Regions from separate parts of the Homo sapiens genome. Here region 2 is linked to region 1. The links come from fine-mapping of genetic effects on gene expression. A gene starts in region 1. The other region holds a variant in brackets. All regions are shown on one strand. Distances are between the middles of the regions.

Region 1 (16,202 bases):
ATTAAACTTCACATATGGATGGTAATTTGCCTGGCTAAAATGATATAAAAGATGAACCATGTTAGATGTTGTAAGAGGGGAATAAGAAACAGAGTTGATGCCTTAGCACATACAAACTTATTAAAGAAAGTCAGAGTAACAGAACTTTAGAGTTCCAAGAGATCTAACATAACAGTTCATTAGAAGAAAAGTGCCACCTCATCATTTGGAATTGAAAATGATTCACGATTTCACAGCAAGCTCTTGTGGTCTAAGAAGCCTTATCAGCTGAGATGGATTTGAAGCTATATCTTTAAAAAAAGTTTATTTTACTTTTATTTTAAAATTTTTTTTACTCTCTCCATTTTGGAGATGAATAAAGTTGTATCTTAAGGAAAGGAAAGAATAGGCAGACAGGACACTTAAGAGGAGTCTAACCATATGAACAAAAGCCTAAAATAAGTAGAAGATATTTTGGAAATTAAAAAATAATTTGGAATACAGTGTTTATATAAGTGAGAGAAAGGACCAGATTGTAAGGGAGTATTTAATGCTCAACTAAGAAGTTTGGACTAAAAAGATGGATTCTAAGAATAAATGGCATTTAAAACTCTAGTAAAATAACAATTAAGCAAGGGTGAATTACCTGATACTTTTGTATTTTACCATCTTGAGGTACTTAAAAACAAGCACCCAAATGGGCTAGTTAAGAATAAACATTCCTACTCATTTATACATTCTAGTCTAACATTCTTTTTAAAGTACCAAGGCTTATAAACAAATTTTAAAAGGAGGGAAGTGGAGTGGTGATGGGACGCATCTATGTGCTTTACTAGTTTGAGCTGACCTTTTTTTAAAACAAGAAACATGTTTAATTTTTAACTTAGAAATTTTTAAGTAAAATGGAAAACAATGTATGGCGTTGGCCAACCAAAGAATGGCATATTCCTTACGGTACAATTTGATTTGAATGAAAATTATTATTTATAAACGTGAATGTTTCTCTCTCTACTGTTCTTACTGCTTATAAAGAGATATTGGCATAGCTCTTAAGCTATTCTTAGCATGAAACTTGGTACTTTGGCATTATACTGATGTCAATGCAATTTAATGTAGGAACTCAGTGATGAAATAAATACTGAGATGAGAAAGCAGTGTTTTGTTGAAAACTACCACACAGCATTCCAAATTTCACATGTTCTATTTTAGAAGCATCCTTTTTTTCTTACAAATTTTATCTTTAAAAAAGTATTATGGAAAATGTCAAACATACAAAAGTATAACAGTATAATGAAACCTCATGAACCCATAACCAACCTTCCACAACTATCAACATTCCGTTGCTGTTGTTTCAGCGACTTCTGTTTTTTTCTTTTGAAATATTCAAACGCTAATCTCAACTGGTGTGGTGGCTCACACCTGTAATCCCAGCACTTTGGGAGGCCGAAGCAGGTGGATCCTGAGGTCAGGAGTTCAAGACCAGCCTGACCAACATGGTGAAACCCCATCTCTACTAAAAATGCAAAATTAGCTGGGCGTGGTGGAGCCTGCCTGTAATTCCAGTTACTTGAAAGACGGAGGCAGGAGATTGGCTTGAATCGGGGAGGCGAAGGTTGCAATGAGCTGAGATCGCGCCATTGCACTCCAGCCTGGGCAACAAGAGCCAAACTCCATCTCAAAAAAAAAAAAAAAAAAAAATACCCTGTAAAAACCAAATCTCAGATATGATATAAGTTTATCCATAAACATTTCAGTATGTATCTCTAACAATTACAGACACATTAAAGAAGTCTGTTTCTCCTAAAATTTTTCCCTTAATAAACGGCTCAAGCCAAAACCTTGGAGTCATCCTTAACTCATCTTTCTCTCATACCTCACAGCCAATCCAACAGCCAATACTGGATAATTTGGAACCTTCACTGCTACCACTGTAATCTAAGTTACAATCGCCTTTTACGTGTATTATGGCCACAGCTCCTTCATTGGTCTCCTTAATGCCCCTGAAACTTCAGTCTTTGTACTTCTTCCTGCTGCCTGAAATACTTTTATTCCAAAAAAAACTAGGTCTGTCACTTCCTTGAGGTCTCTTGAATTTCATCCTATTAGAAAGACTTGCCCTGACCATCCTATCTATACACGATACTAATGTTAGAAAATACTAATAAAGATATTAACAACCACCATCTCTGCGTTATTCTATTCTTCTGGCCATGATTTTTATCACCACCTGATGTATTTACAAGCTTATCTTCCGCTACAATGTAAGCTTCAGGAGGGCAGACACTTTGCTGATTTTATTCACTGCTGTATCACCAGTGTCCACAGTAGCCACAAGCAGACATCAGACATGCAGTAGACACTTAAATATTTAAAACTGAAAAGAAAATTATTTGATGGCTAACAGATTAGCATAAAATTTAAAACTTTTTCCTAAAGAATTTGAAACAAGGAATTAAAATTCTTTGGGAAGTACACATTTTGAGAGCTTTGCTAGATTTAATTTTTTAAATTGAGTCTATCCACAATTTAAATCAGACTAAATTCTAGTAAATGTGTCCTCTTTAAGGGGTGTGAGTTATACGTCTGAAACATATTTAACTGTATTTAAAAGAGTAGCATTATACAGTGTCAAATCCTCATAAGCATCTAGAATTATAGGTAATGAGCACTAGGACAAACAAAAATACCAAGGGCTCTAGTCCTCTATTGCAGTCAATGTTAAAAGTGTACAAGTGTCTCACACATCAAAATTCATTTCACACCCTCAATCACTCATTCTTCTTGCACCTTGTCTTTGAACTATTAGAAGCTAGTGAATTTAAATCAAAACATTATTTTAACTATAAAGGCTCAACGTCTACAATATATCATATTTTAGGGAAGGAAGGGAAGAAAAGGGTTAAGGCAGCTAGCTTATTACTCACCATGCAGATTTTAGAACTTAGAAATCAAAAGCTAGAAGGAATTTACCATCTCTAAAGTGTTACTTGCTTGTTGATATGGAAATGCTCAGATTGAACCAGATGATTTTTAAGGTCTCTCTAGGCCACAGCATTCTATTATTCTAGCTATCTTAAATCTGGAATGCTTATCCCGGAAGAAAAAGCAGCTGGGAGTACTAGGTCAGACAGCACCTGGTTATTTACTAGTTGTGCAAGTTTCTTAACCTCAGTAAGGCTGCTTCCTCACATATATAAAAGGGGTTAATAACATCTATCTGGCAAAGTTATGGAAAAGACTGGAGATAATATGTCAAATGCATTACAAAGTGCTTGACAGGTTTTTCATAATATAGGCAGCTATTACCTTGCTCTAGCTCTACTACTCTTTTGCCAGGGATAGTGCAATGTAGGATCAACTGTGCCAACAAAATTGGGGCAAAGGCAAGGAAAGTAGTAAAGCCACAGAACAGATTTACATTTCAGCACCAATTTGGTATGCATATTAGAAAATTATTTTTGTTTTCTTTTTACAAAAGAGAATGTTGTTGCTACCGTGACCGTAAACACCAGATTGTTTATAATTCATGTTGTGAAATTTACATCTGTTCACAGATTTACTGAGTTGGCATAACATGGGTGATGACTGTGGGAAACGGCCCAAGTTCCTTAGTACTGACACTTCCTTGATTGTAGAATATCGAGAGGTAGTCAACTTTTCCCCTTAAAGTATATTTAAAACATACTACTGTGACTACAGCCATAACAATATCCCCGCATCTCTCCTTGATCTACAGCTGGTGCTTCCCATTTTGAAAAAGAGTGAAAACCCCCCAACCCTAGGTTTCTTGTGGTCTTGGCAAAGTCTCAACGCCAACTGGCGATCTCCATTTCCCCCGCGGGCTGCCAAGCCCAGGACAGTCCTTTCAGGGAGAAAGAGGGCCGGAGGGAACTGTGTTGGCAGCTCTCTGGGTTGAAGGACAGGAAAAGGAAACTCCCTTCTTGGACTCCGAGGGGAGGGTGAGAGACGAAAGGAAAGGGTGGGGGGTAGTGCAAGAATGGCCTGTGTCTCGGTTACCGCAAAGGACTCGCAAGCCTCCGCCAGCCCCGGGGTGGAGGCCACAGGAGCACTGACGTCGTGGTATCAGAAAGGCGGACAGTGCAGCCTTAGTGTTCCCCAGGGGTGGGAGGAAGCTCCCGGCCCCGTCCCCACCCCGCCTCGCTTCCCAGGGAGCGGCGGTTGGGCAGGAGCGGGGCAGAAATCCGCCGCCGGGCCCGGGGAGGGGACCAGGCCGCGCCCATCTCCCAGGCCTCTGGCTGCAGCAGGCCCGCTGGGTGGTCGGCGAGGCCCGGGGGCGCCGCGTCGAGCTGCGGTCCCCTCCCTCAACCTTCCCGGGCGCCGCCACCCCTTTTCCCCCCAGCACCAGGGTACCTGCACGGCGCGACTGAGGAAGGTGCCTGCGTCGGCCGCCAGCTTCTTCACGTTGAAGTCCATGATATTCATCCTAGGCGGCAGCCGGGCGGAGCCGGCCGACCTAGCGGCGGCGAGGCGGAGGTGCCGCGGCCGGGCTGGGGCGCAGGGCTAGAGCGGCGAGGGCAGACGTGGTAGGTGGAGGGAGGCGGCGCCAGCCCCGCAGCCGCAGCTGTCGTTTCCGTGAACGGGGAGGATGAAGGCGGGGCGAGGGAGGAGAACAAGCGCGCGGCGGCAGCGCCAAGGATGGGTCAGTCGGCTCGGAGAACGGCCGCTAACGTCGACGATGGGCCCCGCGGGCGAGCCGGAGATGGACGGGCGACCCCGCCGTGTGGACCCGGGTCCCAAGGGAAAAACAAGCGCGGGCCGCGGGGCGGAGCCTTTCTCGAGGTTATCGCGGGAACAGCGACCCCTTGAGGATTGCGGCGGCGCAGCCCCGGGGCGCGCCGGGAGCTCCGCCCGGCTCCTGTGGAGGAAGCGGCGAGGGCGAGCCGCGGGGTCTCGGCGCCTCTGTATGCTTGCACTTAACGAGAACCCAGAGCGAACACGACCCACATTTCTCTTTTTGTTTTAAGAGGAAATATAGGAGTTACAGCATAGAATTACAATATCTGGACATTAGAAATAACAGGTCCCGGTCACGGTATGGCACCGCGCGACACACTTGGTCCCTGAGGCCTGGATGCCGCTCAGCAAACGTTCGCGGAATAGGGTTGGGTTTACTGTCCCCCACCGAGCCGGTTGCTCATTCATTCAGCATAATTGAATACCTCCTGTGTGCCAGGCACTGAATCAAGTGTCGGAGACAATGTCCTGCCCTCAAGCTCCTGGCCGGTTACTTGACAACCTTCCGGGACCTCAACGCTATGTGCCTACTGTGTGAAAGCAAAGTGCCAGGTGGAGGACACAAAGATGGCGAGCGACACAGGATAGTCCTTAACAATTAAGCGTGACTAATTTTAATAACAAATGAGAATATGATGTGACATCCGTTCCAAATCCTGTCGTTCCAAGTAACTTCTTAAGCATCTTTCACGATACAGCCTCTGCTTGAAAGGAATTAAAACAGGTACAAGCATGGAAGGAGACGTTGCTATCATATTTCAAGAATAAGAAAATGCTGTTTTGTGTGGTTGTGCAGCAGGCAATGAAATGAGCTTACATTCAAGCTTCCGTGTTTTACTGAAACAACAGTCACAGATGCAGTAGATGTTAAAGGTTGAAAGACGAGTGCAGTAAAAGCATTATGAGGACAAGAAGAAAACGTAAATATTTGTGTTGTTTCATTCTTTGTTGTGGTGGCAGAAACAGCCCCCTCTTTCTAAGGTAACTCCAATATAATGATCTCTCCCAGCTTTGAAATACTCCATGTCTGTTTCATTTTCCAGAAATATGGAAAAATGAATATATAATAAAAAACCCTATTTCTCATTTATTGTCTATTTTAGATCTTTATGTGGAAAAGCACTTACTCTCTTCCCAGAGCACTGTTTTTAAAGTAGGTATATTTGCCATAACCTATGCTCGTCTCTACAAAAGGATCACACCACCGTGTCCACCATTAAAGGGGAAATTCTTTAATGGTGGACACAGTGGTGTCCCTGAATCCTCATCCTCAAGTGTTTCAATCTTCCCAGTCTTGGGAAAACAACAATGTTACTTCTTTCTTTTGCACCCTCTGTAGCTGTAATCCTGTTTCCCCATTCTCCATAAAAGACTTACCTTATTTTCATATATCCTTATTCTTAGCCTTTGACACTTTTTTTTTTGAGACAGAGTTTTGCTGTGTCACCCAGGCTGGAGTGCAATGGTGTGATCTCAGCTCACTGCAACCTCTGCCTCCTGGGTTCAAGGATTCTCCTGCCTCAGCCTTCCAAGTAGCTGGGATTACAAGCATGCATCACCACGCCCGGCTAATTTTTTATATCTTTAGTAGAGACAGAGTTTCACCATGTGGGCCAGGCTGGTCTCGAACTCCTGGCCTCAAGTGATCCGCCTGCCACAGCCTCCCAAAGTGCTGGGATGACAGGTGTGAGCCACCGCACCCAGCTGATTCGCTTTCTTTACAGAGAAAATATAAATCATCACTCTGTTTGGCAGAAGCCTCTTCAACCAAATTTCCTTATTTCCACCTCCTGTTCTCTCCACACTCTTTCCTGCATCATTGCCAAATGTTTCAAAGGAATAGGTGTCTCAGGTGTTCTGAGTAGAGCCACTGCTCCCTTAATCTTGGCTGCACATCAGCATCACCTGGAGAGTTTAAGCAACCACTGATGCCTGGATCCAGTCCCAGAGTGTGGACTGGGCATTGGGATGTTTTAGGAGTTCCTCTAGGTGTTCTTAATGTGTGACCAAGGTTGAGAACTAATTTGTCACCCTCTAGAACTTGCTCCATCAGTCTCTACCCTTTGCCTACAGACTGATTCTACTTCTCTTACCAGATATCAGTCCCTTAAGGGCAGTGTCCGTTTCCTATTTATTTTTATATATTTTATGGTTTACACAGGCAACATAGTGAATTCCCAAATGATTTAGTAAGTGAAAAAAGTAATCAAATCAAGATGTTTACAGTGCTAAGCTCTTTTGTGACACCATCACCCCCAGCCTAAATTTCCAACTATTTATCCATAGATTCAATATTTCCAGTGGCAAGTCTGTTATAGTTTGCTTTTCCTGAAAATTCTTCTTTTCTTGGGTTTCCTACATTGATAAATTGAATCATACACACCAAATCACCTAAGCCAGAAATCTGAGTCCCCTTTGATTATTTCCTCTTATTTCCCACCACCAATTGGTCTATCCTGGCAATTTCTTCTCTGAAACTGTTTCCTATTTTTCATTTTCATCCTCTTTTTAAAAACAAATTTTTTAACTTGAAACAATTTACAAACTAAGAAAACTGTTGCAAGAATAGTACAAAAACTTCTGTGTACCCTTTGCCTAGAAACCCCACTCAAACTTTGCCAATTATTCCAATGTCTTTACAGCAAAAACGTCCCAGCCAAGAAAGATCATGTGCTGCATCCAGTTAGCTTGTTGCTCAATTCTCCTTCAGTCTGGATCAATTATTCAGGCTTTTCTTGACACTATTCCTTCCCCAGAGTTAGCCACTATTTTTAAATTGGTATGATTAATATCTGTTATGTTTTTGTACTTTCACTGAATTTATATGTATCTATGAATGGTACTACTATGTTATATTTTTAAACTGCATAAATGATATCATATAGATAAATCCTTTTGCATTTAGGGGTCTAATACTTCTATTTGTGTATTTGATGACCTTTTTGTTTGTGGATTGATTCCTTTTGCTTTGTACATTGATTCCTTTTAGCTTTTTTTTTTATGGCTCATTTTTAGTGATACAGAAAAAAATGTTTCTTCTGTCAGAGACCCCTAAGGTTATCACTGGCTAGTGAGCAATTTTTACATGAATTTCTTTCTTGGCTTAGAAGTTCTAAGATCATTCAGATATTATAAATTTGAACCCAGATTTGTGGGAGTACAAACTATGATTCAAATTCTCAAGGGAGAGAGATCTTCCTTGTTTTTTTCTCTTTCAGAGCTTGTGCCTTGACAGAAAAGCTTCTTACTATGCCAGAAGAAAAGCTTCTATCTAGTCTACCCTTTCATTGAGGGTACAGAATTTCATGGGTTTTTAACTTATGTGTGTGTGTGAGGTCATGAAGTTGGGGGACAGGGTGTGCTCACAGTTAACTGATTTCTGTTTGCACCAAGGGCCCAAGGTCTTATCACAAGTTACCGTGTATTTTTAAAAATTATAAAGGCCAGGCGCGGTGGCTCATGCCTATAATCCCAGCACTTTGGGAGGCTGAGGTGGGTGGATAACTTGAGGTCAGGAGTTCAAGACCAGCCTGGCCAACATGGTGAAACCCTGTCTCTACTAAAAATACAAAAATTAGCCGGGTGTGGTGGTGGGTGCTTGTAATCCCAGGTACTCGGGAGGCTGAGGCAGGAGAATCACTTAAACCGAGGAGGTTGCAGTGAGCTGAGATCACGCCATTGCATTCCAGCTTGGGCAACAAGAGCGAAACTCCATCTTAAAAAAAAAATTAATGAAAATTGACAAATGATAATTGTATATACTGTATTGTATACAACCTGATTTGTAATATGTATACATCTTGGAATGGCTAAATTGAGTGACTTAACATATGTATTACGTCACATACTTATTTTTATGGTGAGAACACTTAAAGTCTGTTCTTAGTGATTTTGAAGAATACAACATGTTGTTAACTATAGTCACTATGTTGTACAATAGATCTCTTGAACTTATTCCTCCTATGTAACTGAAATTGTATATCCTTTGACCAGCGTCATCCAGCTCCCTCACTCTCTCCCAGCCCTTGCTAACCACCATTCCACTCTTTGCTTCTATTGAGTTCAACTTTTTTAGATTCCATATTTAAGTGAGATCATGCAATATTCATCTTTCTGGGCCTGGCTTATTTCACTTAACATAATGTCTTTAAGGTTCATCTATGTTGTCACAAATGACAGGATTTCCTTCTTTTTAGAGGCTGAATAGTTTTCCATTGTATACATATATCACATTTTTAAAATCCATTTATCACCTCATGGATTTAAACATTCAAGCACCATCCTCATTCAATCCTTTCTCCTCTCCAGACAGGGTCATATTCTGTATTCAAGACCCTGGTGTCCAGTTTCTTTTTTTATTTTTGCCACCTGAATATTTCCCTGTCTTTTTTTTTGTAAGCTCAAGTATGCATTATTATTAATTAATTAATTTATTTTGCTGCATTTTACCCAGCATTTCTAAGTATTTGTAGTAGAAGAGTTTTCATGTTATCTAGTCTGTATTGATTAAGGACTGCTTATGTTCAGCTCAAGTAACAGAAACCTAGCTGTAGTGACTTACCCAAATACTGATTTATTTTCTCACCCTCTAAGAAGTTCAGAGGTAGGCAGTCTTCTGTGTTTTTGTTTTTCTATTCTTATCATGTAGCTTTCATCCTAATGTCTCAAGATGGCTCCTGTAATTCTAGGCATTAAATATGTTTTTAAGGCAGAAAAAGGATGAAAAGTAAAGGCAAAAGTACATGCCAACTGAGTCTACTTCTTACTCCTTAAATCAAGAAAACAGCTTTTTCATAAACCCCACGTAGTAAACTTTGGTTTACATCTCATTAGCTAGAACTGGGTCGTTTAGTTCTCCGTAAATGCATTAGAGACTGATAAATGAAATGTGCCCTGTTGAAAAATAAGTATTTCAATTTTTTATATCTTTAAAAAAATCTATATCAAAAATACATATATATGTATCTATATATCTATATATATCTATATATAGATACATATAAATTCAGTTGAAAGTATACAATCATAATAGAAATTAGTATTTTATTTTTAAATCTTTCTTTATTTCTTAAACAGCACTTACTGTCATCCTGAACAAAAATGGGGTTTCTGTTAGCAAGGCAGAAAGAGAATAGTTATAGGGTAAGCAACTATCAATGTCTGCCATGCTGCTGTAAGGCAAGAATTGAAAGTCTCCCATGCTCACTGAAACTTCCTTTCAGTTTTTAGACTGATAAACAGGGCCACTTACATAATTCGCAGGGACCAATGCAAAACGAAAATATGGAGCCCTTTGTTCAAGAGCAAAAGGAAAGTGCTGTTTAAAGGTATTAAAATAAAACTTTTTCCTTTATTTTGTGATCTCTTTTGACTTGTCATTTTTTTATTTGCTGTTTAATGTCATTCTAAGCAAAGAAAAGATTATAATTTAAATTATTAGAATGATTTTTACCATACATCTTCATGTTGTACAATGACAGTGTTATGTTATGTTATGTTATGTTATGTTATGTTATGTTATGTTATGTTATGTTATGTTATGTTATTTTTTGAGATGGAGTCTCACTGTGTTGCCCAGGCTGGAGTGCAGTGGCACAGTCTTGGCTCACTGCAACCTCTGCCTCCCGAGTTCAAGTGATTCTCCTGCCTCAGCCTCCCAAGTAGCTGGGATTACAGGTGCCTGCTACCATGCCCAGCTAATTTTTGTATTTTTAGTGGAGACGGGTTTTTGCCATGTTGGCCAGGGTGGTCTCAAACTCTGTAATCTGCCTGCCTCGGCCTCCCAAAGTGCTGTGATTACAGGCATGAGCCACCGCGCCCGGCCCTACAATGCCAGTTTTAAAACAAATATAAGAGCATTTCCCAGCCTCACTAATTATCAGGGAAATGCAAATCAAAACCGCAATGCAATACCACCTTACTCCTGCAAGAATGGCCTTTAATTAAAAAAAAAAAAAAGATGTTGGCATGGATGTGGTGAAAAGAGAACACTTTCACACTGCTGGTGGGAATGCAAACTAGTACAACCACTGTGGAAAACAGTGTGGAGATTCCTTAAAGAACTAAAAGTAGGTCTACCATTTGATCCAGCAATCCCCCTATTGGGTATCCACCCAGAGGAAAAGAAGTCATTATACGAAAAAGATACTTGCACATGCATGTTTATAGCAGAACAATTCACAATTTCAAAAATATGTAACCAGCTCAAATGCCAATCAATCAACAAGTGGATAAAGAGAATGTTGTATATATTTTCTGGAATACTACTCAGCCATAAAAAGGAATGAAATAATGGCATTCATAGCAACCTGGATGGAATTAGAGACCATTATTCTGAGTGAAGTAACTCAGGAATGGAAAACCAAGCATCGTATGTTCTCACTCATAAGTGGGAGCTAATCTATGAGGACATAAAGGCTTAAAAATGTTTCAATGGACTTTGGGGACTTGGAGGAAAGGGTTGGTGTGGGGGTGGGGCATAAAAGACTACACATTGGGTACAGTGTACATTGCTCGGGTAACGGGTGCACCAAAATCTCAGAAATCACCATTATGGAACTTATTCGTGTAACCAAACCCCACCTGTTACCCAAAAACCTATTGAAACAAAAAAATTATAGATAAAAAACAAATATAACAGCATTTAAGATGTATGTAGAATCATTGAAATTGTACAATTTGTATTTCACAGTACACGCATGCATATGTATTTTGTTCTTACTAAAACAGTGGAAATGCGGCATGAAACTAAATCAATTTTTAAAAATTTTATTTCTTGATATGTGCATATTCCACCAATACTCTACTTTTGGCCTGCTGATGAAGAGTAAGGAAGGACTGAAAGGAGGAGAAACTATGGGTTGCCTTTTCCTTCTGTCATCTGTTCAGCGTAAGTGGTTGGCAGCTTTAAAAAACCATTTACTTTGTACTCTCATTGGTCTTCTGGAATTCACTACTCATAGATGTATTGAAAACACTATATATGAATGGGGCCTCAAGGAACAGCAGCAGACATGTGTCTGTAAGTGCTGATGTATAAAGATTTCCAAGATACCATATTAATAAAAAAAGTGTATGGAACAGTGTATGGGTAATTGAGTGTAAATAAAAAGGAATATGTGTTATATATATATGTAAGTACTTTGTATATGCATAACTTGTAAAATAAAAATAATTTTAAGAAACTACATATAGCAGTTACCTTTGGGGAGAAGGTATGGGGTAAGGAGCGGGAAGGGTAGGAAGCTTTCACATTTTATTTTGTATCTTTCTGTACTTCTTGGATTTACAACATGTGTATGTATATGTAGATATACACACATGTATAACATTTCTTTCATGTTTTTATTTTTAGATTTCATAGTAAAACCTTTGTTGATTTAATAAACATAATGGATACTCATTAAAATATTCAAACAGCATAGAAAGGGACAAAGAAGAAAGCAGCCAGCAATCCAAGTACCACTATCCAGAAATAGCCAGTGATATCTCTTTATGTGTGGAAATACAATGAAAATTGAGTGAGAGACATACACAGAGGAAGAAGAAAAAGAGTAAGTTATAAAAGGTATTAAATTAAATTAATTTAAATTTAGCAGAAATAAAAAACAAGTAAAAAATGAATAAACCTCATGTTATTTCTTTCCCACAGAGGTATTAGATCCTACAAGACCCCTCTTGGAGTCATTTTATGTGAGGTTTTCTTCTTCCTTCTTCTTTTTTCTAAATCACCTGTTTTAATCTTAGACATCATCTATTAACTTACCATGTTAAAGATGAGGTAATTAGAACTTATTTTTTTCTTTCGTCTTGCATTTGTCTCTCTACCAACTTACATTGCTTTTATTATTTTTACTTTGAGTTAAGCAGTGAGTCACCAGTAATGTCCAGTGTTATTGGAGTATGTAGGAAAACAAGCATTCTCAAACACAATATGAGGAAGTGCACATTGATAAAGATATTTTGAAGGGTAATTTGGCATATTAAGTAAAATTTAAATTTGACCCAGCAATTCTACTTATAGCAATCTATCCAAAGCATATTTGTACAAAGATAAGTATACAAGCTTTTGTGCAACACTGTTTTTAATACCAAAGAGTTGGAAATGTTAATCAGTAAGAAAATGGTTTTATGAAGTATGGTGCATTCGCAATGTGAAATACTATAGAAAAGTTAAAAGAATTATGGAGACAAATATGTACTGAAATGGAAAAAATTCTAAATTATATTGTTAAGAGAAAAAAGAAAGTCATACAATATACCTACAGTGTGATTCCATTTTATTATGAAATAATATAAATATATATCCACACATTCACACTGATACAGAATTATACATACAGAGAAAGATTGGGGAGAGGAAAAGGACTGGGAAGGTAAAGAGGAAAGTTCATATTTAATCCCATATACTGAAAATCTGCCTTTGTGTTTTACAACAGGAATGTATACGTTGTATAAAAGGCAGAGAAAAGGAGAAAAAACAGTCTCTTCTCCAATATGTGTAAGGAATCTAATTTTAGGTAGTATTTCTGGTTTAATGATTGATATAATGGGCAAATCTGCTTTCTATTTCGGATGAGAAACAAAGCAAAACAAAACACCCTAGCTTTTGACATAATCTGCATGCCTTGCCATAGATGTTAGCCAACAAACCAAAACTTCTCCTCACCTCAAAATGACATAATTTCTTTCCTATTACACTTAAGATCCTGGAATCATGTAGTTCACTGCATTCTTCAATCTTGAATAAAAGTGCTAGACTACTGGCAATGCTATTCTCTTTCAAAGAGCTTCTTTCCCATTATGCCCATGTTTTTACTTTGAGGACTGAATGCTCATTCCACTTTAAAATAAAGCTTAACTATAATTTTATTTTATACTTTAGTTACTGATATTACCTTGTGACTTGAGATGAAGACTAAAAGGAAAAGTAAAATAACAGTTTGGCTCACATTGTTGGAATTTAAGTTAATATGACTCATACTAGCAATTAGCTTCTTGTCCTGAAAGGTAAATATCAGTGTATTTACTGACGCTTTGAGGTATGGGAGTAAGGAGACAACGCCACCAAATTATGTGGTATAAGTTTAAGCTCTTAAGTTACCAAGGAAAAACTTAAAAGGATCCACTTGCCAGTTACTTACCAATATGATCATCTAACAAACACCTATTATGAGCAACCCCTATGCTAAGTTCCATGAAGGACAGCAATATAAGATATAATCTTTTTTTTGTTAAACGATGTGCATACGTGAGATAATATGGAAAGTTGAATCTAAGAAAGCCTGGCTTGGGAGGTATTCAAGTGGTCGTGGTAGAGTTAAAGATACCCAGAAGTCTTCTAAGAAGCACAAAACATGATTCCTGTACTCAGAGACATGCAGTCCTATTCACATGCAAAGAGGACCTACACTGGCTATTGCCAAGTATCAAGCGAGGTGAGTGCTATCATAAGTCACAGAATGGATACATTATTTGAGTAGTCAGATAAATCTCACAGCATGAGGCATAAGATGTCTAATAATGTCTAGAAAGCAATTGGAAATATGTGATTAAAGCTTGGGAATGAACACTGGGTTAAAGATAGACACTTTGGAGTCATTTGCATGGCTGTGATAAATAAGATTTGAAATAGAAGATAAACAGAATGAAAAGTAAAGGAAGATTAAAATCTGAAGAAAACAGCAAGACACTGTAAAAATAAAGACAGTTATAGAACTGACATGTTCACAAATATTAAGCAAAACAAGAGTTAACTAAGTGGACTGCATTCAAAAAGTTTAAGTAATCTTTTTAACTTTTGCTTGGAATATTGCTGATCCTTGTTTTGTTTTTCAGAGTCAAGGAAACTTATTTTAAACTATTAATGGCCATTAATAATTGAGTAAGGTATACTACTGTAAACAAAATTTGGAGCATGTTCATTTATCTCCACCTGGTTCCTCTAAAATTTGGAGACTACCTGTAAGTACTCTTAACTTATGGCAGTATAGTTGTTTGCATCAGTGCAATAAGAATGCATTTTTCTTTGTCAACAGGACACAATTGGATAAACTGGTTATTTTACCAAGGCTTTGGCTGAAATGGTGTGTTTCCCTTTAAGGAATCAAGCTTGACATGCAGAGCCAATAAAAGCCCCTTGGAGAACTGGCCTCATACCTTGTCTATACAGTCCCCGCACAGGGTTCCTAACCTGTAGTCAATAAAGAATGTCACTTTCTAACAGGTCTGGAAGCTCGGAGTTTCTCTTGGGACCTCAAGAAGTGAGGATCACCCAACTCACAGGTATTTGAGGATACAGACCCATTGCTGGGCTCGGCTTTAAAGGTCTTATCTAAGATTCCTTGTGGAACAGAGTTTCATCAAAGCCAATCCAAGAGACCTATGTAGAAATAACTATTCTTACTGCACTTCATGCAAATAATCAAGCCAAGTATAAGACTAAAGTTCATTCATGATTAGTTTTGACCAAAAATGAGAACTGGAGAGAAAAATTTTGCTCCAAAGCTTATCATACATTTGTCATTAAATCCTCATCTCAATTGTTTTTAAGATTTTTGCTTACATTTTAAACTAATCCTTCTTATTCCTGTGAATAAAATGGTAATCTTCTGCAGCTTGGAAGAAATAAAAAGGGATGGGTAACGTAAAAATCTGAATCAATACACTAGCTCTGGGCAATTATACTGCAAATTCTGCCAGGTAATGAAAGTAAGTAGGGTATCCATAACCTGGAGTTTTCTTTGTTTGGGAAAATAAAAGCAAAGCTTCACAGACCGCCAAAGGGAAATTCTATATCTTGGCAAGTAAAATTTTATATGGAAATTATCTACTACACCACACTTGTGGGAACTGCTATACTCACTCTACTATTTGCAATAGGGTTATACATGGTAGCACCTTCTAATTGAAATATTGAACAGAGTTTCCATTGCTGTTGTATTTTGCTTAATTATTATCCTTATAGTAGGAATAATAGTTACTGACAAAAAGGAAGCATAAAAGTTTTACTATCACTGAGTCTGCTAGGACTTTTTATTGGGTTTAGTGATGATTAACACCTAGTAAAGTAGAGAAAAATCTACAGGTACTTAAAGATCAAATCAAAATTATTGACAGGCTCAGGGAAAATGCCAGCTTCAGCCCCAGATGGCTACAATCCCTCTTTAATAAATTCCAGCCTTCTTTATGGAATTGGTTAACCCCTTTATTAAGCCCTCTCTTGCTTATATGTCTTGTATTGATATTTGGACCCTGTATACTCAATACTATAACTCGAATTGTTTCTTCTCACCTAGAAGCAATCAAACTCCAAATGGTGCTGCAAACTGAACCCCACATGGACACGCCATTCTTCTGAGGACCCTTAGATCCACCCCAGGAGGAGCCCTAGCTGCTGTTCCCCATTCGATGCCCCTTTTCAGCCGTAAGTAGCCAGAAGAAGTCATCGCTCCAAACCCTCTAACAGC
Region 2 (16,202 bases), 52 kb before region 1:
GAGTTCTGATGGACCCAATCATTTGATGAGTCGGAGGACTTGGGACCCCAAGTTTTAGTCTTGCCTCTGTGTGGTCTTGGGTAGGAATCTTCACTTCCCTGGGCCTCAGCTTTCTTCTCCGCTGAATGAGGGAGGTGGACTTCATAGGTTCTGAGGGGTCCCTTGGTCAATATTCTGTCACTTGACCCCATGTTTCTGTTGGCTGTGACTATACTGATGATGAGTTTCAGCATCAGCTACCTTGCTACCCACCCTTTTCTCTTCTTAAATAGCTCCTTGAAGACCACACAGACAGTAAGGGTTGAGACTAGGAGTTACGTGCAGGTTTGTCTGACTACACCAGATGACCCTGATTCCACTTTATAACACAGAACTCAAATCAAATTTTCATCTTTCTTGAATCCATTCATTCATTTAATGAAATTTTACTGAGTGCCTACCCTGTGTCAGCTGCCATGCTAGACTCTGGTGTATGGCAGCAAACAAAAAGACAAAGTCCCTGTTCTTTTGGAATTTATGTTCTAGTGGAGAGGGACATATAATAAGCAATTGAACAATTAAGTACCGAGGGGAAGGTAAGTGCTATGAAGAATAAAGCAGGGTAAGGAGATAGAAAGTGGTGGAGTGTTATTTTGTACAGGATGCAGGCTGGTGGCCAGCAAGGTCTTTGCCATGACCTTCATTGGTATGGCAGATGTCTGAATGCCAACCTCTGATGGTTGACAACACTTCCCTAATCTCTCCCTCTGCTCCCTTCCATTTCTAGCTGGATCCTTGCATGGAAGGTTGTATTTTCCAAAGATGGCTGTAACAATATCTCCTACTCCACATGCTCCTCTTATAATGTGGCTTTGATGTGCCTCTCATCAAGAGGTGGGATCTATGCTCCCTCACTTAAAATGTGGGTGGGTTTCTGACATTGAAAGCAGTATTATTTTGTGACTTCTGAGGCTGTCATAAAAAGTGATGCAACAAGCAAAGAATTGAACAGATATTTGCACACCTATATTCATAGCAGTATTATTCACAATAGTCAACAGGTGGAAGCACCCCAAATGTCCATCAACAGATGAATAGATAAAGAAAATATGGCATATACACACAATGGAATACTATTCAGCCTTCAAAAGGAAGGATATCCTGTCATGTGCTGCAGCATGTGTGAACCTCAGGGACATTGTGTTGGATGAAGTGGACCAGTCACAGAATGACAGATGCTGCATGATTCTGCTCGTATGAAGTATCTAAAGTAGTCAAATACATAAAAACAGAAAGTAGAACACTGTTTTCCAGGGGCTCAGGAGAGAGGAAAATGGGGAGTTGTTGTTTAATGTGCATAGAGTTTCAGTTTTGCAAGATGTAAAATTTCTGGAGATTGGGTGCATAACAATGTCAACGTACATAACACTAGTGAATCATACACTAAAACATGGTTAAGATGGAAGATTTTTATTATTTTTTTTTTTTTAGGTGGAGTCTCGCTCTGTCACCCAGCCTAGAGTACAGTGGAATGATCTCAGCTCACTGCAACTTCTGCCTCCTGGGTTCAAGCGATTCTCCTGCCTCAGCCTCCTGAGTAGCTGGGATTACAGGCGCCCACCACCATGCCCAGCTAGTTTTGCATTTTTAGTAGAGACAGGGTTTCACCATGTTGGCCAGGCTGGCCTTGAACTCCTGACCTCAGGTGGTCTGCCCACCTCAGCCTCCCAAAGTGCTGGGATTACAGGTGTGAGCCACCGCACCCAGATAATGTTATGTGTTTTTAACCACATTAAAAAGAAAAAGGTGATACAACTTCCACTTTGCTTGCTGTTAAAACCTGCACTTGAGTCCTGTGCCACCATGAACATGGTCCAACTACCCTGAGGCTGCCATGCTAGGGGGAAGCTCAACTCACCTGTGCAGAGAGACCACAGGAAGTAGCCCTCAGATTACAAGAATAAAGAGATGTATGGCCAGCCTCCAGCTTCTCCAGCTGCCACCTGACTACAACCTCATGAGAAACGCTGAACCAGAACGGCCCCAGCCAAGTTCTTTCCAAATTCCTGATCCACAGAAACCTTGAGAGATAGTAATTGTTCTTTGATGCTACTAAATTTCGTCAAAATTTGTTCCATGGCAATAGCTAACTGGACACCTTGTCTCAGTCTCTCAGGTCAATTCTGACCACAGGGAGAAAGGATTTAAGTAGCTCTAGCCTATCACTGTGCAGTGGCTGATGGTCTGGCCCTGTAGATGCAAAGCTCCTTGAGAGAAGAGCTCTGTGTCACCACTGTAGTAGTTGTGGCCTCATCCTCCAGGAGTGCTTTCTATATTTCATTCTACAAATATTTACTAAGAGCCTAATAGACTTCATTGAACTCTAGCACAATCCCTAGAATATATTAAGCATATAAGATATGCTCCTTGCTTTCAAGGAATGTAATTTAATGGAAGAAACAAACATATAAGCAAATAATTTCTTCCTAATTAATTATTTTCTTTCATTGAAACACAATTAACACAGGGGCATAATTTAGCCCGGAGGAGAGTCAGGGCAGGGACCTCTGAGACAGTGACATGTAAGTTGCAACTAGAAGGATAAGAAGTCATTAAAAATATGCTTGATAAATGTGTTTACCTGGGCTTGCTCTGAGCTGTGAGTGTGATCCAGGTCTGCTCCACAGGTCTCTCATCCTGTTTGAACTAGTGCTACCAGGGCGGACATTTCTCATGGTGCTGGCAGAAGCCCAAGAGGGCAAGCCCCACTGTGCAAACACATTACAGGCCTCTGCTTATCATGCCTACTAACATCCCAACATCCCATAGGACCAAGCAAGGCATGTAGCCGAGCCCACCATCAATGGGGCAGCCAAGGACACTCCTCTCATAGAGGTAAGAGTAAGGGGTGTGTCTACCCACTTTTTGGAGACAATCCTCTACAGCGGTCAAATGTCCTATATCCTCAGCTATTAAGACCCTTGCTTGGGCTCCTGCTTTTTAATCTATGCTATTGCTTTTGTAGATTGTGCTGACAAACACTAGGCTGTTCTCCCAGGCACTTCTAGCCAGGTCATGCCCCCTTGCCTGCTCCCTGCAGCCCTCCACGTTGGCCCATGCCAATGCCTTGTTTGATTCTCCATCCTTGTCAGTCCGCTCCATTTCACAACACTTAACTGTCTGTGCCAGCCGTATCCAGCTACGACAAGAAAATCTGATGAAAATGTAAGGTGCTGGCAAAAATCATTTTATGGAAATACATGAAAAAATCATCTAAGCTGATTATAGTATTGAAGAAGAATTGAACTGGAGCAGGATCATAAAACTCACTTATAGGGATGCCATGAAAATTAGCTAGTCAGTGTTCATGGTTTGAACATAAAACAAAAATTGTTATTGATTTACATATAATGTCTTTGTGGGGTCTTCCAAATGCCTCCTCAGCTAATATATAACAGAAATGGGGAAACTAAGTGTTAAGTTTAGGACCCAACCATCTTGCCTTTAGTTTTGTTTGTTTTTGTTTTGCCAGTGGTAGTATAGATAGCAACCTTCCTCTCAGCACAGAGAGCTGGCTGTGGACCTAGACATTGTGAAGAATTGCAGTGTGGATTGCAAAACACCATCGCATTCATAAGTCATGGCTTATTAGATTTTTGGTGAAAAACTTCAAGGGGCATCTGTTTTCTCTCCTCTGTTCTTGCCCCACCACTCGTCACCAGTAGAGACTGTTTTATAGTAAATTATGGCCGGTTCTGCAGCCTGATTATTCAGGGCCTGCTTGGCTTGGTGACTATTTTCTTCTTGCCAACGGGCATTCCTTCATTTCACAGCTTCTTAGCCCTAGCTGCTGAGAGTAGAGAAGCGGAAATGAAGAGGTGGGACTCAAGCCAGTTTATTACGCCTCTTGTTGGTGGTGCTGGTAAGGGCTTGGCAGGGAAAGGAAACTGGAACTACGGCCCTCATCAGCAGAGGCAAGGGAGGTGGGGTCCTGCGGCTGCCTTTCAGCGCTGTGTCCAGTGTAGGGGGCAAAACCTCCTTACCCTCAAGCCTGTCTTAGCAAGGCCAATTGCGAAAGGCTTTTTCGTGGGCTTTGGCTGTGTTCAGAGTCAAATGACATTCTGATGTAATGATAATGGTCCTAATCACAAGAGGATGTTCTCAGTGAGTGGGCACCAGGCACCGTGCAAAGTGAGTTATTTCACTTAATCCGCACAAAGACTCTAGAGGTGGGAACTATTACGCAGAAGGGGACGAACTTGCCCAAGGTCATGCCTCAAAGCAGCAGTAGAAACTGTGGAGAATGGAGCAAGCTGTTTGTTCTCCAGTCCAAGCAGCTCTGTCTTCTCCCTGGCCCACCCCACGGACACCTTCCTGTTCACGGACCTCCTCCTCTTCTAGAGGCACCGAAGCTTGTGTGGATGTCTCTGTCATATTCTCCCTCACCTTTGTGGAGGGATTCACCAGACCTCCTGTCCAGCCCACTCCCCACCTGCTTGTGTGTGTGATTTCCATGTGTGCATTGTGGGAGCTGACTACACAGCAGAGCCTCAGCCCAGCCTCGGGTCCTCTTCCCCGCTTTCAGGCAACTAAAGGCCCACAGGTGGTTGGTCACACTGACTTTGGATCCAGACTGCCTGGGTTCTAATCCTCCATCACTTGTCACCTCTGTGACCTTGGGAAGTCACTTAACTTCTCTACGCCTCAGTTACTTGAGGCTAACAATTGTGCTTACTGCCTAGAGCTGCCTTGGGGGTCCAATGGGATCATGGGTGTACAGTGCCGTCAAGCACATTGTAAGTGCTCAAAAAACACGAGCTAGTATTATTTCCTACTACATGCTGGTTACTGCCCTGGAACTAGAGGAGCATAAAAAAGCCTGGGCTTGGAGAAATTTAGGGGTCTTCAACAACTCTGCACTGTTCTGGGTTCGGCTGCACCATCAATTTTCAGGCACATTGCAGATTAAGTAGGCTTTGGTGCACTGACCTAAGAGCCTCATCACCATTTATATTATATAAAATGTACTCTGTTTTCCAATCAACTGAGTTTCCAAAGAAGCTTTGGACAAGTTACTGACAGAGCTAAGTAGACTGGAGACAGAATGGAAGAGGTGCTCATTTCCTATACCAGGGAGAGGTTAGAAAGAGTCCCTGCTTACACTGAGAAGGGGGTTCTCAGCCCATTGTCAATACCATAATAGTGGGTGTCACATATGTTTAAGGAACATGAGGGAAGGGATATCAGTTCCTGGAATAGCACCCACTGGGCAGGAACATCAAACTGTGCTTGAGTTGTTTGCTCAGCTGTATTTCAGAGGCTGCACTCTACCTTGGTTATAGATAGGATAAGTCTCTGCTCCTATCCATTTTAAACACTGGCCATTAGCCAAGTTAAATGGTATAATAGTGCATTGGGGAGTCCTCTGTAGACATTGAGAGCAAGTGTTTTGGAGTTAGGGAGCCCTGGGTCAAAGCCCAGGCTCTACCACTCTACCAGGCTATGTGATTTAAGAGCCTTCACTTCCCCTTTTGTAAAACGCAGATAAGAGTCATACCTACCTCTCAGGTTGTTAAAATGAGATAATGAATGTAAATCACTTTAAGCACAGCGCCTTGTATGCAGCAAGTACTTAAGTTACTGCAGCTATTATTCTTT[C/T]ACTTTTTGCCTCAAGTTGCAAGGTCTCTGTTGATAGGACTTTTGGGAGAGAGGAACTGGGGAACGGACTGGGGAAGACAGGCAAAGGAATCCCTGCTCAGCCACCCTGCCCATTACTGTAGTTCCTGTGATCAGTGATGTGAAGTTACCGCAAATATAGTGAATGACCGCAAATAGAAGGTGATCTTTCAACTGCAGCCAGGTGGTTTTGTTTTTGTTTTTGTTTTTTTTTTTTGTTTTTCCGAGACGGAGTCTCACTCTGTCGCCTAGGCTGGAGTGCAGTGGCGCGGTCTTGGCTCACTGCCAGCTCCGCCTCCCGGGTTCATGCCATTCTCCTGCCTCAGCCTCCCCCGTAGCTGGGACTACAGGTGCCCGCCACCACGCCCGGCTAATTTTTTGTATTTTTAGTAGGGACAGGGTTTCACCGTGTTAGCCAGGATTGTTTCGATCTCCTGACCTCGTGATCCGCCCACCTCGGCCCCCCAAAGTGCTGAGATTACAGGCGTGCGCCACCGCGCCTGGCCCAGGTGGTTTTTAATACAGACACATGGCTGATAAGAGCTTAACAAGTTTCTGGATCTATTACCAAACTCAGGTCATTGTTTTTGCATTTTGCATTGGAATGTATGGATATATGTTCTCCAAACTAGGGAAATATAGATATGACCAGTGGTCTCTCCAATTCTGAAGCAGTGAACAGACAGCTGTGCTGTGTGTTCAGCAAACTCTGTAGTATAGCATTGTCACAGTAGTAAAGAAGTCACTATTCCAGCAAAATAATCCAAACCCACAAAGTTAATCCAACCCATTTAATAATATGCATCCTAGTTGTTGTGCTGTATGGCAGTGAAACAGAAATGATAAACTATTTACAAATATGACTATATTTTCCTTAGTTCCTCCATTGAGCAGTCATATTTTCAGCCATTCTCTTTGCTAGTTGTTCAGTGTGTTCATGGTCAGTATCACTGTTGACACATTTCCCCCATCCAAGCCACGCCTTCTGCTACCTACTGCCCTTCTTCCTTTTCCCTCCAGGGGCATTCTTTTCCTCCCCCAGGACCCATAGATCCTTTAGTCTCAGCAGCCCACCTAGCTCAGCTATCCGGGTGTTGGGGACCTCAAGTTTGCAGAAAATGGTGTTAAAATTAGCTAGAGTGGGCTCATGCTGGGAGTCAAAGGAAAAGTGGGAATGGGCCATGAAGGAAGGTCTAGAGCACTGGCTTCCTGTGCCTGGCAGTCTTGGGGTAAAGGAATGTTGCATTAGCATCGAGAGAAAGAAGAAAAGGGAGATGTTACTCAGGAAATCTATTTTCTCTAGAGATTCAGGAGTCTTGAAATGAGCTTAGCAGATTTACACTTAATGTCTCTATCTAAACTTTGGTTTTCTCATCTGCAGAGGAAGGACAATCTCTACCTCGCAGCATTGTTGCAGGAATGAAATTAGAGAATGTGTAAAGCACCCCACACAGTGACTGGCATGTGGTAAATGCCAATGATTGGCATCTATTTTTAAAATAATGTGCTCTTGTCCTGCTGAATAGGGCATATAAACCCCTCAGTGGAAACTGAGACACTGGCTAGAAAGAAACAATAAAATTATATTGCTGTCTTACCTTGATAAAAGACAGATACATAGAACGTATTCCCTTACAGCTGAATTTCAAAATAAACTTCCAATCCATGGACTCTTTTCCCTGTTCCTGGAAAAATTATATCCTGAGCATGTTCACGTGCTTACCAAATTACTCATTAATGAGTGGTCTATTTATTGGATAGAGTCAGTAAAATGATATTACATTTTAGTTTCATTTGATAGCTTGGAGGTATTTTGGGGGGGCTGTCATTATCATCTTTCATTGTTTCTGCAGGTGAGTCAGCTTTGAGGTGAGAGACAGGTGGTTTCTCTGCTATATGTAAACAAGTGGCTCTCAAACATGTGCATCAGAATCATCTGGAGAGCTTATTGAACCACAAGATGGCAGAGTCCCACCCCTGACAGATTCCAGGACCTGCACTTTGAGAAGCCCTGACTTAAACCAACACTGATTTCTCTGCACTTTCAGCTGTGGCAGTGATGGCACTGGCAGCTCCCTGCTTGGCTTGATGACCTTTGTAGGTTTCTTTAGTTGGTTAAGCAGCAGTTTATAGCTGCTTTATGTTAAGAGCAATACTTTTTCTGCCCCAAGAAAAGTACTAACCTGGGAAGAGTGCAGGAAATAATGGACCATTGACCATATGTAGGGGGCACATTCCAAAAATAGGTGTCTGTGTTCCACACTGATTAAGAGCTTGGGCTTTGGAGTTGGGAAGGCAAGCAATGAGACTTCTTTGCCATTTTTCTAGTTGTGTGGCTTTCTAAATTCTGTTTTCTCGTCTGTAGAATGGGGGAAAGTATACTTTCTTGCCAGGTTTAAAGAAGGTAAAGCACATAAAGTGCTCAATAAGTGTTAGCAACTTTTTCAAGGGGATGTAAAAGCCCAATGATGCCTAAGACTGTGAGTGCCACTGTTCATATATACTCATTAGAATTCACTAGAATGTCTGAGCACAGAGTTGGTCCTTTTGAGGTCTAAGTCAGTCCAGGTAGAGAGGGATTTCTAAAGAATTTCTCACAAGGTGTTATTCAGCCTTTTGTAGAAAGCTCAGACTGAAGAGCTTTATACTCTAAAATATAAAGAAAACAACCCCATCAACGAGCTGCCAGTAGAAATGTGTATGCTGTTCAAGTTAATTCATAATTGTGGGTTTAACATTAGTTATTATTAAAACATGAACAACTTTGGCTTGTTTAGAACATGTTAGGAAGCAAGAGCTAGATGGACCTTAGAGATCATCTGGTTTAATCCTTTTATTTTACAGATAAAAAAATCTGTGGGGCTGAGAAATTAAGTGAACAATTTGCTTGAAGGTACGCAACCACAAATTTAATTTCTACTGGACTTGCTAGGTAAATGCTCTCAGAAAGAATGGCTTGTGGACGATTATAAAACCACTATCATTTCAGTCTTCTGTAACATGTAATTGATTTACATTCAAACAGCCTGGGTAGAAGGTAAATTCATTTAGTTTCCTAGGGTTATTATAACACAAATTTATCTTGAGGCATTCATCAGGAAGTTACATGAAATAAAGCTGGTCATTTTATGAGTATATGATAGAAATTGTTTTATAATCACACCATGCAATTGGAAGCATATGCTTTGAAAAACTTCAGGTGAATATGATCATGGTGATATTCTATGATGTGGCAGTTGCTGTGGCAATAATGGGGCTGGAAGCTCCATTATTGAAGCTTCAATTGTCCCATTTTTCCATGTGTAGAAGCAGACCTTGACTGTTTTCTGAGAAAAATCTTGACCCTTTCTCCAAGTACTGTTTTTTCTTTCAGAAATGGAGTGACTTTCTATATAGATTTCAGTCAATTTTTAGTGAAAAGAATTTAAACTCATTTTCTACATGATTGGTTAAAATATAAGGATTTGTACTCCATATTCTTGAGATCTTAACCTCCAGCCTTCAGCTGCCAAATGTCTATGAAAAGCTTTGTTATGAGAAATATATACGAAACTTTGCCTGAAAAGTGTGTAGTTCATTCATTACTTTAAAAATTGTAATAGTGACAAAATAGTAGTTAGAAATTGTTAAGTATTTACTGTATGCCAGTTACTGAGTCCAGCCCTTATGTGCATTATTTCTTTTAATCCTTGCAACTGGTGTTTCGCCCACTTTGGCATGCATCAAATCACCCGAGGGCTTGTTAAAACGCAAATTGCTTTGACCCATCCTTAGGGTTTCTGATTCAGCAGCGGCCCGAGACTGCATGTCTAATAAATTTCTAGGTGATGCTGATGCTGCTGGTCTGAGAAGTACTGTTTGCTACAAACCTAGGAGGTAAGCATTTTAATCTGTACTTTGTAGATGAAGAAACAGGTTCAGGTTGTGTCACTTACTGAACACACAGTTAATAAGGTGGTAGAGTTGAGATTTGAAAATTTGCTTTTTTGATTCCAAAGTCTATAGTCAATTTCTGTGCTAGGTGGTTTTGCAATAAAACATTCTGTCTGGGCTGAATAGTAACATTTTATAGTTCAGGAATAGAGTAGGACTCTATTGCTCCTAACACTGGGGTCCAAATATATTGAAGCATATGGATGCCATGAGATGGTACTAATCAATGCCAGAGTGTGGGATAAAGTAATACGGCCCTTAAAAGGGACTTTATCATGAAGGTAGAAATAGACAGGTGAGCAGCTCCCTGACACCAAGGGGAGCTATGGGACAAAGGGGAGCCTTGGTTCCAGGACTGCAAAGTGTCCAACAGTGGAATTTATCTTCACCAGACAATCTGGTGAGGGCTTTCTCCTGGGAGAACTGGCTTTGTGTGTGTAAATTTAAAGAGCTCTTGTACTTAAAAGAGAGCTGTGCTTTCTGGGAAGCCTGCGATTGAGTGCTAATAGGGAAGAAATGGCTCTCATCATGCCATAGAACTCTGACTTTCCTCTCTGTCTGAGGCAGCAGTGAGCCAAGCACTGTGGGCTGTAGGTAGCATTGAAGAAGGGGGTGGGTTAGAGGTCAGCAAGAAACACAACGTCTGGGTAACATACTTGTCACCACGTGGTTGCCTAGGCAGTGGGCCCCTGTTGTATCAGTGAGGAAAACTCTATCATGTAACTGAGGTAAGATTTTGAATCTTGATGAGCAACCTTATTGCAGGCATTCCATACCCACTTCTGTAGAATGGGCTATCAGATGCCAGTGGTGACCTTCCCATTTTACCGACTTTCAGCATGCTAAACCTCAGATTCACTGGCAGTGACCGCAGAAAGTTTCTGAGGCAATTAGGTTAGGAGTGTGAGCTGGGATAGAAGGCCTGTCTTCACTAGCAGGTAGAAAGAAGAGGATTGACTGTGGATGTGTCTCTGGAGATTCTAAAACATACACAGGCGAGGGGAATCCTCCACTTGCTGATGATCGGACAGGCCACGGCTCAGCGACATTGTGTTTCAGGGTGTTAATGTGAATAATTTTGTGCCCATTTATACTCTCAGTTTGATGAAAACTTCAATGCAGCAGTCATGTACAATTTAATCCATGAATCAGTGCCAGCACTGTGGCCTCTTAACTCCGCTTTGGTGTTGATGTCTCAGTGCTCTCTTTATGAGTGCTTCTTTATGAGTAGCTGTCTCCTGAGCAACCAGCATGTTTCTATATGTGAACAGTCAATCTGAAGCCAGATCATACATCTTTCTTTGGTTCTCAGAAATCTGGGTCAGATTTGTCATTCACAAATATCAATTGATCAAGATCTTCTATTATACATTTTCTCATGTAAATTTTTTGAAAGAAGGGAGAGGGAGAATGTATAGAAATGGAAAAAAGGAAGGGTGGAAAAGAGGCAGAGAAAAGGAGAAAGGAAGGAAATTTAGCCCATTTTACAGAAGACATCTATATAGAAAAGCTCAACAATGGAAATACCCCCATCCAACCTTGATGTGACTGACCCTAAATTTGAAGTATAGATGTGGCCAGCAAAAGTCCATGCTGTAACAAATTACTGTTTTGTAAAGTATGAGTCAGTGATGAGCACCGTAAAATTAACCAGAGCCAATGAAGTAATAACCATGATGATAGATTCTGGGGATTACTCTCCAAGAAAAGTAGATATGTGCTTTCTGTAATATTGGTGTCCTAAACAGCCAATGTTTCTTAGGGCAAATACACATAATAGCACCAAATTTGAATCATTAATAGATTTTTTTGCAAATACAATGCTGCAAGCAAGCTATGAGCTTGCCAAAACTCAGCTTTAGGTGTGCTAGGTGTCAGGGGACACAAAATCCTGTCCTTCAAGTTGGCAAGTAATTGTGATCCAAGGCAAAATGCATGTGATAGTTGTGTGTGTGTATGCAATTCTGCCTGCGGAATCCAGAATCTCTTCATGGAGGAATGAGAGTTTGAGCTTATTCTTGACAAATGAGGATCTTCAGGTGAAGCTGAACACAAGAAAATACATAGAAAAGGCAAGCAGGTATCAAAATGCCTGGTTGTTGGGAACTGCCTACTACAGCTCAAGCTTCAGAGAACTTTACTAGAACATGAGACTGAGCAGAAACATGTGCCCTAAACCCTGGTGCATCAGACTCTCAGAAAAGTTGCTTATAATGGTAGTCCATCTCACCTCCAATTAGCTATTCGTCTTGTTCTCGTAAGCCTGAAGCTTCCTGTATAGCCTTCCTTACTTACAACCCCCTTAAGTCCTCTTACTACTCATTCTTTATTGGTTGAGCAGTTTGAGTTATAATCAACAGATGTTAATTTAAATTTATTATGGTTCATCCAAATATTAAAATGGGTTGGTCTGTGGGGTTTTGCTATGATGACTGCAGCTCAACCCTGGGACATCTATCTTTTTGAATACTGCTGAGCAACTTTTATAATTCAGATACTTCTTTAAATACATTTCTCTCACTATGGATGAATCAATTCTGTGATCTCCAGTCCTGGAGATGCTACTGAGACTTAGCTAATTAACAATACTGTTACTGAGCTGAGTCACCTGTCCTATGTCAGGCTCTCACATAGAGGTACAGCCCCCCGAAGCACTGAGATCAGCTGTGGGCCAAGGGTGGGGGAGTATCAGAAGGGGCAGTTTGGCAAGGTTTACCACTTAAAAAGACTGTGATTACCACTTTCGTACACTGTTGTTAAGCATGGTAATGTTGAAATCTTCCACTGTACATCTTGTCTGAGAGTTTTATCTGGTTACATTACTTGAATACCTGACTGGAAAAAATGAGCCAGATTCCATAAGAATGAGGATTGCGTAGGTATAAGGATATACAAGACAATGCTCATTCACTGTGACAGCTTTCAAGGAAGATTTTCTTTGGCAATGGCAGTGATATTTACTCCAGAGGTTGACAATAGCAAATGCTCTAACATGCTCATCTATAAATCCTAGTAAGCCATAATATTATCCACTAGGTGCCAGCCACTCTTCATAATATGGTTAATCCTTTCAATGCTACAAGGTAGGTTTATAGTATTCTAATTCTAGAGATGAGTAAGCAGGCTCAAAGTGGGAGAGGTTTAATGACTGACAAAAGGCCAGGAAAACAAGTGGGAGAGCCACTGTTCTGCCTACCTTCCAAAATCCTACTTTCCCCACTACGGCTACATTCCCTAAATCCATCAACAGTACACCTGCATCAAAGATACCTCAAGATTCAAGTCTACTTAAGATTGTTCTTCTACTGTCTTTGCAAATGTCAGAAAGGTAATAATGCTTCCAGGAGACTGAATAAAAGCAAGAGGCAACTAGTACTACAAACATTTCCAAAGTAATACAAAATATATGATAAAGAGGGAAGAACAGTAAATGAATGTCATAATTTAAGAAACATTTAAGACTGGACTTTAATTTTGCAGGATCTTTTTATCTCCCTCTTACCCTTTATTTTTAAACCAAAGACTCCAAGAACATTCTAGTTGGAAGCCCTCCAAAAGAAACAGTATTCTCTCATATACTGCTGATAAAAGTATAAATTGCTTAGAGTTTTCTAGGGGGCAACATGGCAGTAACAAAAGCTTTTAAAAACTGGCATACCCTCTTCACTAGCAATTCCACTTCAAAGCATTTATCGTGAGAAAATATGAACACATACGAGATTTAGCAACACAATGTTCTTTAAAGCACTTTATTAATGAAAGTTGGAAACCTAAAAATTGAACAGTAGTTTAATAAAATGTGGCACATATGATGGAATATCATGCAGCCATTAAGAGATGTAGAAATATACTTGACACAGCAAGACAGTCATGGTATTGTTGAGTGAAAAAAAGTTACAAAACAGTATGTACACTTTGATCCCATTAAAAATATCTATAAATGCACAGAAAAGTCTGGAAGGCCATATACTTAAATAACAGTGGTTCTCCCTGGATGATGGAATTATCAGTGATTTTTCTTTCTCACTGAATCTTTTTTCTTTTTGCCAACAGGGCTATGACTTGTATTATAAAAAAGCATTAACAATTCTTTAAAAAGTGTCCTTTGAAGTAAGAATGAGAGCAGAACTTAGCAATCTAAGAGGCACAGGGATGTACACATGGTTTCTGATACTGTTTTAACGGTTTGTCAAGGTGTTTTGATGTTAGTCACCAATTAAAAGGCACTGTGTTGAGTGAAAACGTGGATGGTGGTAGTGCTTACTTTAGACTAAGCAATCCATTCCTAGAAACCTTCCACAGCAAACAAGTACTGGCATTCTAAGCAATACTTCCCACTATGATATCCTTATACCTTCCTACCCACTTGTAATACAGCCCAGAAGTTTCCCCTACATGGACAGGGCACTGTTGTTGGTTAAGGGTTACAGAAGGCAGAGAGGATTTTTCAAGTGATGTCAGAGAATAGGCCTGAAGGTGAAATGAATGTTCTCTTAGTTCTATTGCAGTGGTTCTCAAGCTTAGAGTGCAACAGTATTACTCAAACAGCTTTTACAACAGATTGCTGGGCTCCACTCTCAGAGTTTGATTCAGTAGGTCTCTGAAAAGGCTTATAAATTTGCATTTTTCTTTCATTCAACAAAAATTTATTGAGTTCATACTATGTCCTAGATCTTGTGCTAAGAGTTGGGAATGTAACTGCCATCAAAAGAATTATAGTTTTTATCTCAGGGAGCCTACATTCTAGAGTGACAGATATACACTAAACAAATAAATTATAAAAATAACTATAATTACAATGACTACTGCTAGAACACAATTAAGATTAGAAGACTCAGTTTTTGTCTTAAAATATTTAAAAAGCTGTCACATGGAAGACTGATTCCATGAGCCCTTGAAAACAAAAAATAAGTAAAAATGAAGGTAGAAAGTTCTTGAAAATAGTAATCAGCATTTTAAACAAGTCTCCAGGAGATGCCAATATTGCCGGTCTGGGGTCTCACACTTTGCCAATCACTGCTCTACTGAGTAGACATTTTTTCTTTCCTTGAGACAAGAGTCTTATTCTATCACCCAGGTTGGAGTGCAGTGGTGCAATCTTGGCTCACTGTAGCCTCTGCCTCTGGGGTTCAAGTGATTCTCCTGCCTCAGCCTCCCGAGTAGCTGGAATTACAGGTGCACGCCACCATGCCCGGCTAATTTTTATATTTTCAGTAGAGACAGGGTTTCCCCATGTTGGCCAGGCTGGTCTCGAACTCCTGACCTCAGATGATCCACCCGCCTCAGCCTCCAAAGTGCTGGGATTACAGGCATGAGCCACGGCACCCAGCCCTGAGTAGACTTTCTAATGAGCGTAATATGGGAGAAAGGGCAGGGGTGGTTGTGGAACTCTCTCTCCAGCGTTTGAGACTCACATGAGGTAAAAGCCACTTCATCTTATCTGGAGGTCTTGAGGCAAAGTTGGCTATAGGCTAAACTATGAAGCTATCTCTCCATTACAGCACCTCACTGAAGCTTAAAGTGCTAAATAGTAGGGCAATATTTCAGAATTTCAGGTGTTTGGGAGATAGGGAAGGAATTTTTCTGGAATTCTGTCAGCATGGAGGTGAGTGGGGCCTCTATGGGTAAACAAGTCTGTGGGTTTTTGCCTTGCCCTCCATTGTCTTCTCCACTCCACAGTTTATCCCAGAAATGTTTCCCCAACACTAGCTTCCCAGTCTCACTTTGTTCTTTGTTCAGGGGGAGGATAACAGGAGACTATGAAGATGACTCTACCCCACTGGTGATCCTGGCCTCAGGATTTATTTCCCATGTGACGCAGAGTGAGGAGGCACATTCCCATTTTTGAGACCTCATTTCTTGCAACATCAATTTTTCTGATTAGCACCATAAAAAGTTTTAACACCATGACCGTTTAGGTTAGATTACTTTGAGGAAAAAGGTAGACACAATCCAATCACTTTTTTTTTCATTTATAGAAGAGCCTACAATTATTTTAGTTTTTCATTCATATGTGCATCCTTCACATGTCACTATACTTTCAGATTAAGCTCAGTGGCACAGAGCTTATTTAAACAATTCTGAACTGCACCATGAATTAATAGGCTTCCCAAGCTTTTTCTTCCACGCCCAAGAAACTTCAGGCCTTTACCTGAGTAAAAACTAAACTTGACTTTAAAATAAGCCAAAACCAAAATAAAACCCAAACAACCAAACCCCATTAAAATAAAAAGCAATAAACCTAAGAACAAGCATATATATTGTGGTGGTTCTGTGGTAGACAAACGTACCAGAAGCCTTTGAAGCTTAACATTATTGAAGGTTTCTGTACATTACTGGGTAACTAAAATCAACTTTCACTTGATGGAAAGCTGAAAGTTCTGAAAAATGATTTATACTGACTGTGGGAAGGTTAAACCTGGGGTCTGATTTAAAGAGGGTGGAGGATAGGATTGATAGAGAGAAAACAGAGCCCAGATGTAAAAGAGGTATCTCTGGTGCACAGTGATATGCAAGGCCTATAGACTTGGTAGGTCAGGATGCTACAGGGGCTAACAAGGGGAAACTGATATTTACAGGATGTGTTTACTATGTGCCAAGCCTTTCCCTGAAAG

Direction of the effects. Alleles are on the strand shown, and positions count from the first base shown. SD is a standard deviation of normalised expression in the study named.
For the expression in skeletal muscle of the gene that starts at base 4,746 in region 1, T is the low allele of the variant in region 2 and C is the other (small effect, 0.15 SD a copy in GTEx).

The links. PIP is the estimated chance that this variant, and not a neighbour inherited with it, causes the effect. A credible set is the group of variants that fine-mapping cannot tell apart.
Region 2: its variant is the best candidate, but not a certain one, in a credible set for the expression of SH3GLB1 in skeletal muscle (GTEx, PIP 0.63).

The regions. Positions count from the first base shown.
Region 1 is chr1:86,693,120-86,709,321 of GRCh38, reverse strand. SH3GLB1 (SH3 domain containing GRB2 like, endophilin B1) reads right to left here and starts at 4,746. Exons shown (of 9, transcript NM_016009.5): 1 at 4,351-4,746. The coding sequence starts at 4,422. CLCA4-AS1 (CLCA4 antisense RNA 1) reads left to right here and starts at 4,829. Exons shown (of 5, transcript NR_135837.1): 1 at 4,829-5,715; 2 at 11,560-11,623; 3 at 12,089-12,301; 4 at 16,032-16,159. RefSeq lists a silencer at 4,093-4,582 and enhancers at 4,407-4,908, 5,473-5,542.
Region 2 is chr1:86,745,304-86,761,505 of GRCh38, reverse strand. SH3GLB1 (SH3 domain containing GRB2 like, endophilin B1) reads right to left here. Exons shown (of 9, transcript NM_016009.5): 9 at 13,322-16,202. Among named protein-coding and RNA genes, the nearest start is that of SH3GLB1, 49 kb to the right of the region's middle. RefSeq lists enhancers at 5,466-5,966, 7,638-7,697. The variant C/T (reference allele first, on the strand shown) is at 5,638.